Homo sapiens: one gene and its partner. The protein of the gene in region 1 purifies or fractionates together with the protein of each later gene. This does not show direct contact. Each region holds a gene or a part of one and is shown in the gene's direction. Other genes may lie near its edges.

What was found.
Region 2: the proteins of MTFR2 (region 1) and SPTB purify together in Homo sapiens (affinity purification with mass spectrometry; one large-scale study listed by BioGRID and IntAct). This does not show direct contact.

The regions. Positions count from the first base shown.
Region 1 is NC_000006.12:136,243,546-136,247,372, reverse strand, and holds part of MTFR2 (mitochondrial fission regulator 2), read left to right. Parts: intron 1-2,503; coding exon 2,504-2,608; intron 2,609-3,827. UniProt on the Homo sapiens protein: May play a role in mitochondrial aerobic respiration essentially in the testis. Can also promote mitochondrial fission.
Region 2 is NC_000014.9:64,748,201-64,751,089, reverse strand, and holds part of SPTB (spectrin beta chain, erythrocytic), read left to right. Parts: intron 1-840; exon of another isoform or gene 841-935; coding exon 936-1,109; exon of another isoform or gene 1,110-1,393; coding exon 1,394-1,436; exon of another isoform or gene 1,437-1,616; coding exon 1,617-1,784; 3' UTR 1,785-2,889.

The DNA.
Region 1 (3,827 bases):
GAAAAGAGATTTTTTTTTTTTTTAAGATGGAGTCTTGCTCTGTTGCCCAGGCTGGAGTGCAGTGGTGCAATCTTGGCTCACTGCAACCTCTGCTCCGAGGTTCAAGTGATTCTCCTGCCCCAGCCTCCCGCGTAGCTGGGATTACAGGAGCCTGCCACCAATGCCCAACTGATTTTTATATTTTTAGTAGAGATGGGGTTTTACCACGTTGGCCAGGCTGGTCTTGAATTCCTAACCTCAAGTGATCCACCTGCCTTGGCCTTCCGAAGTGCTGGGATTACAGGCGTGAGCCCCTGCGCCTGGCCTGAAAAGAGATTTTGAATGGAGCTAAGTAAGAGAAGTGAAGTTGAGGTATGTCAAGTTGAAGTTCTCGGTTTTCTCAGTAAGAGCAGAGACAAGGTCACTTGCAGGTAATGAAGTGGTGGGATTTGAGAAGGGATTTCAGAGATTGGAGACTGCTCTGGGCAATGTGGTATAGAATGTAACATGTTATGAAGGGATTTCAGAATACCTGTGAGAACCCAGCTGAAGTCATCATGGAATTGTAGTTTTTCTAAATATTGTCGTTTTGTGATTTTTTTTTCCTAGCTAAGAGTAATTACAGTAGTGTATTCATTAGCAGTGTGGGAGCACATAATATCAAAAGAATGAACCATTTTTGAGTGGCATTGAACATATTACTGAAATAATTAACCAGAAAATCCATGCTTGGTAGGAAAATTAGTAAAGTCAAAATGTGGGTACTAGACCAGGAATAGAGGGAAGATGAAATAATAAGAATGGTGAAGATGGCCAGATGTGGTGGGTCGCCCCTGTAATCCCAACACTGTGGGAGGCTGAGGCAGGCATATCACTTGAGCTCAGGTTTTCAAGACCAGCTTGGGCAACATGATGAAACCTCGTCTCTATAAAAAATATAAAAATTAACCAGGCATGGTTGTGTGCACCTGTGGTCCCAGCTACTCCAGAGGCTGAGGTAGGAGGATTGCTTGAGCCTGGGAGGTGGAGGTTGCAGTGAACCCTGATCATGCCCTGCACTCCAGCCTGGGTGACAGAGTGAGACCCCATCTCAAAAAAAAAACCTCAAAAAGCAAACAACAACAACAACGAAAATGGTGAAGATGGCCAGGGGCAATGAAGGAATGAGAGGAAGGACAAGAGTTTATTAGGATGGAAACTGCCGAGCAAGATAGGAAGGTATCATTTAAATTAACTAAGAACTAACCCAACTCTTGGGTGACTGTATATGTCATAGGTAGCCGTCATGGTAGCAAAGCCTCTATGCCTGTTGTTCTTAGCAGGGGTACGCAGATGAATGGTCTGTAGAACACTTTAAATATAAATGCTCAATCCTCCAAATATTCTACTAGTAATAGGTCTGGGATCTATATCCTCTAGGCTGTGCAATCCAGTATGATAGCCACTGGCCACATGTCACTTTTAAGTACTCAAAATATCTGAATTGAGATCTTCTATAGGTGTAACCTATATAAGGGATTTTGAAGACTGAGTGTGAAAAAAATGTAAAATAATCTTAGCAATTTAAAAATATTATCGGTTGAGCATCACTCAAAACCTGAAATCTGAAATGCTCCAAAATCCCAAATGTCTTGAGTGCCAGCATGACACCACAATGGGAAAATTTTACACCTGACCTCACATGATGGGTCACAATCAAAACGCAGGTGCACAACCCACAGTTTATTTAGCCTGCTGTTGTTAGTTGTTGCTGTTGTTTAACAGCTGAGACCGGCGGTTTATTGGTTGTTTTAATGAGGATGCTAATAGGTGGCTACCTATATCAGTTGGGATCTTAGGAAAAATGTCCAATTTATTATATCACATCTTTTGGCTGGTGGGGGAGAGTGGTTCCTGTGGCAATGGTTTACACTAATTTGGGAAGCCCACACTAAAGGATGAAGTATTATTTGAGCTATAGTAGCACATTATTACTTCTAATGCCTTTTCAAGAGCTGACTGCCAGCAGATATATTTCACTTTATGTAAATAACTCTGAATTGTCTAGGACCTGATTTATTTATTCCCTTTTTTATTTCTCCTTTAAAGGAAATTACATAAGTATACTCCATATTACGTCGTTGCTTGATAATTTGAAATTGTCTATTTTTGGTTGGGCCAAAAAGATGGGATTTGTAGCTGGGGGAGGGGATGCAATTTTTTTGAACAAAGTTTCTCCCAAGGTATTGGACATTATCAGAAATAGAACAAAATGAATTGTGCTTTTTAAAAGATCTTCCTGGAATGTATATATGTTTACTACCATCTCTTTTTAAGACAAATACTCACAAAGTTCTATTCTTTGAAGAAAGGCTCTGCCATTCTATATTTCTTTTTAAAAATAAATGTTATTTTACAGGACTCCCTGTATTAAAAAAAAAATGCCACTGCGTCTTTTTTGTCTTTTTTACATCTCCTTTTTTCATACTTATATAAATATGCTTAATCAGAGTGCATTTTAATTCATACTTTATGTTTAAAATAGGTTTTGCTGATTTGGGAAAATAAAGACTATGGATCAACTAGGAGTATTGTTCGTATTATTGGGAAAATGCTTCCACTGGAACCTTGTCGAAGACCTAATTTTGAGGTAAGTCAGTCAACATAAATTGTTTAAGTACCAAGTACAAAATAATCCTAGGTACTCTTACAGGTATGGGGTAGAACAACAAAGGAAGAAACATTTCCTGCAAGCCAAAAACCTGTAGTTTACCCTTGGGAACAAGCCATTTCATATATGTTTTTGTGTTTTTGTTTATTTAAATACAATCATGCATCGTTTAATGATGGGGGGATACATTTTGAGAAAAGCGTTGTTTGGTGATTTTGTCATTGTGCAAACATCACAGAGTGTACTGGCACAAACCTAGATGGTATATGGCCTATTATGCACCCAGGCTATATGGTATGACCTGTTGCTTCTAGTCTGCAAACCTTTTCAGCATGTTACTTTACCGAATACTGTAGGCAGTTGTTACACAATGGTAAGTGTTTGTGTGTCTAAACATAGAAAAAGTATGGTAACAATGCAGTAAAAATTAGATAAAAAATGTTACGTCCGTATAGGGCACCTACCATGAATGGAAGATGGGAAGTTGCTCTGGGTGAGTCAGTGAGTGGTGAGTGAATTTGAAGGCCTAGGACATTACTGTACACTACTGTAGACTTTATAAACACTGTACACTTAGGCTACACTAAATTTATACAAAAACCCTTTCTTCAATAATACATTAACCTTAGCTTACTGTAACTTTTTTTATAAATGTTTTTATTTTGTAAAAATTTTTGACTCTTTTGTAATAATACTTATCTTAAAACACACATTGTACTGCTATACAAAATATTTTTATATCCTTATTCTATAAGCTTTTTATGATTTAAAAATTTTTAAATTTTTTATACTTTTAAAATTTTTTTGTTAAAACTAAGACACAAGCACACACGTTAGCCTAGGCCTACCCAGGGCAGAATCATCAATATCACTGCCTTCTACCTCCACATCTTGTCCTACTGGAAGGCCTTCAGTGGCAATAACATGCATGGAGCTCTCATCTCCTATAATAACAATACCTTCTCCTGGAATACCTCCTGAAGGACCTTCCTGAGGCTGTGGTATAGTTAACTTTTTTTTTTTTTTTTTAAGATAAGGTCTTGCTGTCGCCCAGGCTGAACGAAGTGGAGTCGCGTGATAACGGCTCACTGCAGCCTCAACCTCCTGGGCTCAAGTGATCCTCCCACCTCAGCCTCCTGAGTAGCTGGGACTACTTGGGAGGTGTGCACCACCACACCTGGCTGACTTTTTTTTGGTC
Region 2 (2,889 bases), on another chromosome or scaffold:
ATATAAATGTTATATACTATAAATGTTATATATTATATAATATATAATTGCTACATATATAATATATAACATAATGTATAATATATAATGTATTATATATAATGTATAAAATATACATTATATGATGTATAAAATATGTATTATATAGTATATGATATATAATGTAATATACATATTTTATATATTTATATATTTCATATAAATATATATTATACATAATAGGTATATATGTTATATAATAAATATGTAAATATTATATAAATTATATAATAAAAGTATATATAAATATATATTACATATATACTTTTTTTTTGAGACTAAGTCTCGTCTCTGTCACCCAGGCTGAAGTGCAGTGGCTCAATCTCGGCTCACTACAAGCTTCGCCTCCCGGGTTCAAGCGATTCTCCTGTCTCAGCCTCCTGAGTAGCTGAGACTGCAGGCATGCGCCACCAAGCCCGGCTAATTTTTGTATTTTTAGTAGAGATGGGGTTTTACCACGTTTGCCAGGCTGGTCTTGAACTCCTGACCTCAGGCGGTCCGCCCGCCTCGGCCTCCCAAAGTGCTGGGATTACAAGTGTTAGCCATCTTGCCTGGCAAAAAAAGAAATATTTGAGGATATGGAGAAATACTCATGATTTAGTGTTATGCTTAGAAACACGATATAAAATTGAATATATCCATAACCCAGTTTTAGCTATCTGTGACTAGTAAAAAAAAAAATGCGAAAATGTGAAGACTAGAAGGAATACATAAAATGTTAATAATAGCTAATTTTTTGTAATGAAATTACATGCAGATGATTTTTTAACAATAAAACATGTTACTATGTATCAGAACAAACATGGTGTAATTTTTTTTAATGGTGAAGCTATAGGAATTGACTCTAGAGATACCATATCAGGATGTGGGTGACCTGCCTGTCTGCATCTTTGCAGGTCCTGGAACAACCTGTACTGTGTGCTCAGGAACAGTGAGCTAACCTTCTACAAGGATGCCAAGAACCTGGCCCTGGGGATGCCCTACCATGGGGAGGAACCCCTGGCCCTGAGACATGCCATCTGTGAGATTGCTGCCAACTACAAGAAGAAGAAGCACGTCTTTAAGCTGAGGTGAGGCCTTCCTGGCCTTTGAAAGCTCGGGTTGATGGCTTGATTTGGCATTAGTGGCAGGGCAGAGGCCCTCTGTAGGGGACCAGTGCCAGGCCTGAGCTGCTCCTCAGGGGTTTTTCAAATCAAAGAGGCTGATGGTCCAGACTTTGACCTCTCAGAAAGTGCTGGGCTGCCTGAGAGGGGTCTGGATGTTCGGCTCAGGGTATTGTGGGATCAGAGCCAGCCCTCTGCCCAGCGCCCCCTCCAGAGGTGTCTCCATGACAGGAAACCCTTTGTCCTCCTAGGCTGAGTAATGGCAGCGAGTGGCTCTTCCATGGCAAGGATGAGGTAAGCGCGGGCAGCCTAGCCCAGACCTGGCTAAGAAGGGGGTAGGTGGAGGACCCCAGGCCGCTTGCCCTGGAGGCCCCCTCAGAAGGGGCAGTCCCAAGAGCCCCCACCATTGTTGCCTGGCCCGGGAGGTGGGGGGCTGTGGGCCTCCAGACTCCACCGTGACCCTCCGCCCCGCAGGAGGAGATGCTGTCCTGGCTGCAGGGCGTGAGCACCGCCATCAACGAGTCCCAGAGCATCCGCGTCAAGGCGCAGAGCCTGCCCCTGCCTTCCCTCTCCGGCCCCGACGCCAGCCTCGGCAAGAAAGACAAGGAGAAGAGATTCAGCTTCTTCCCCAAAAAGAAGTAGCAGGTGGGGCTGGCGGGCGCGGCGGAGTCGGGACGCGCAGAGACCGGGCAGCCCAGGCCTTGGCCTCCTCTCGCCGCCGCCCGCCGGTCGAATCGAGATGAGTCGAGTCGCGGGCCGGGCCCCCGGGCCCCACGCTGCACTGCAAAAGCTGCCTTCGCCCGCGTGTCCTGGGCCGACGCCCCCTCCATGCCCTCGCCCGCGCTGGCTCCGCTCCAGGGACAGGGGCTCCCAGCTCCTCTGGCGCCTTTGGGGCCTCCAGGCCTGGGGGCAGGAAACGGTTCTCTGAGGCACACGCCCTCCTCTCCCACCCTCCTCCTGAGCCGAGGGGGCACAGGCCCCTTACCCCCAACCAAAAAAAAAAAAAAAAAAGAGCTGGAGAAGGCTGATGGGGTTCTTCAAACGCTGCCCGTTCCTAAAGCAAGTCTTGCTTCGGGTCACCTCCCACCTGGTGGCAGCCAGGGAAAGGGGAAAGGAAGAAGACACTGGAAATGCATGGCCAGCCCCCTAGGGGCATGAGGAAGGAGCCTTCAGGTGGCCCACAAAGCCCTAGCTCTGGGCCAGGGGCTCTGGGGGGCTGAGGGGACCAGACTGGGTGCAGGGCCTTGGGAGCTGCCAGCCTCCTTCCCACTGGGCTTCCGCAGAACTGGGACTCTCACTTCAGGGGCCACCACATCCCTCCTCTCTGCTTCTCCCCCCAGATCAAAGGGTACCCTCCCACGGTTGGCAGGGCCTGGCTGAGTGCCTCTAGCACCCTTTGTGCCACCACAGGCGGTCCCAGGAAGGGCAGCAAGGTCAGACCATTCCTCATTGAAAACCGTGGCTAGGGCACAGGGCTCTGATCTGAAGGAGTGACAGGTGCGTCACAACACTGCCTAAGGCTCTCCCTCTCAATGCTGGGACCCTCGCCCCACTCCCAGTGGCAGCCAAACCAGCAATATCCAACAGACATAGGCCCCCTACGGGACAGTGTGGGCCCCCAGATATAAGATGGATACCCCCCGCACCTGCAGTAAAGCATCCCAAAGCCAAATGCTCAATTGCATCCTGTCTGCAGCTGGGACTTTGGAGGGTAATGGCTGGGCAGACAGTAAAGTTGATCATCTGT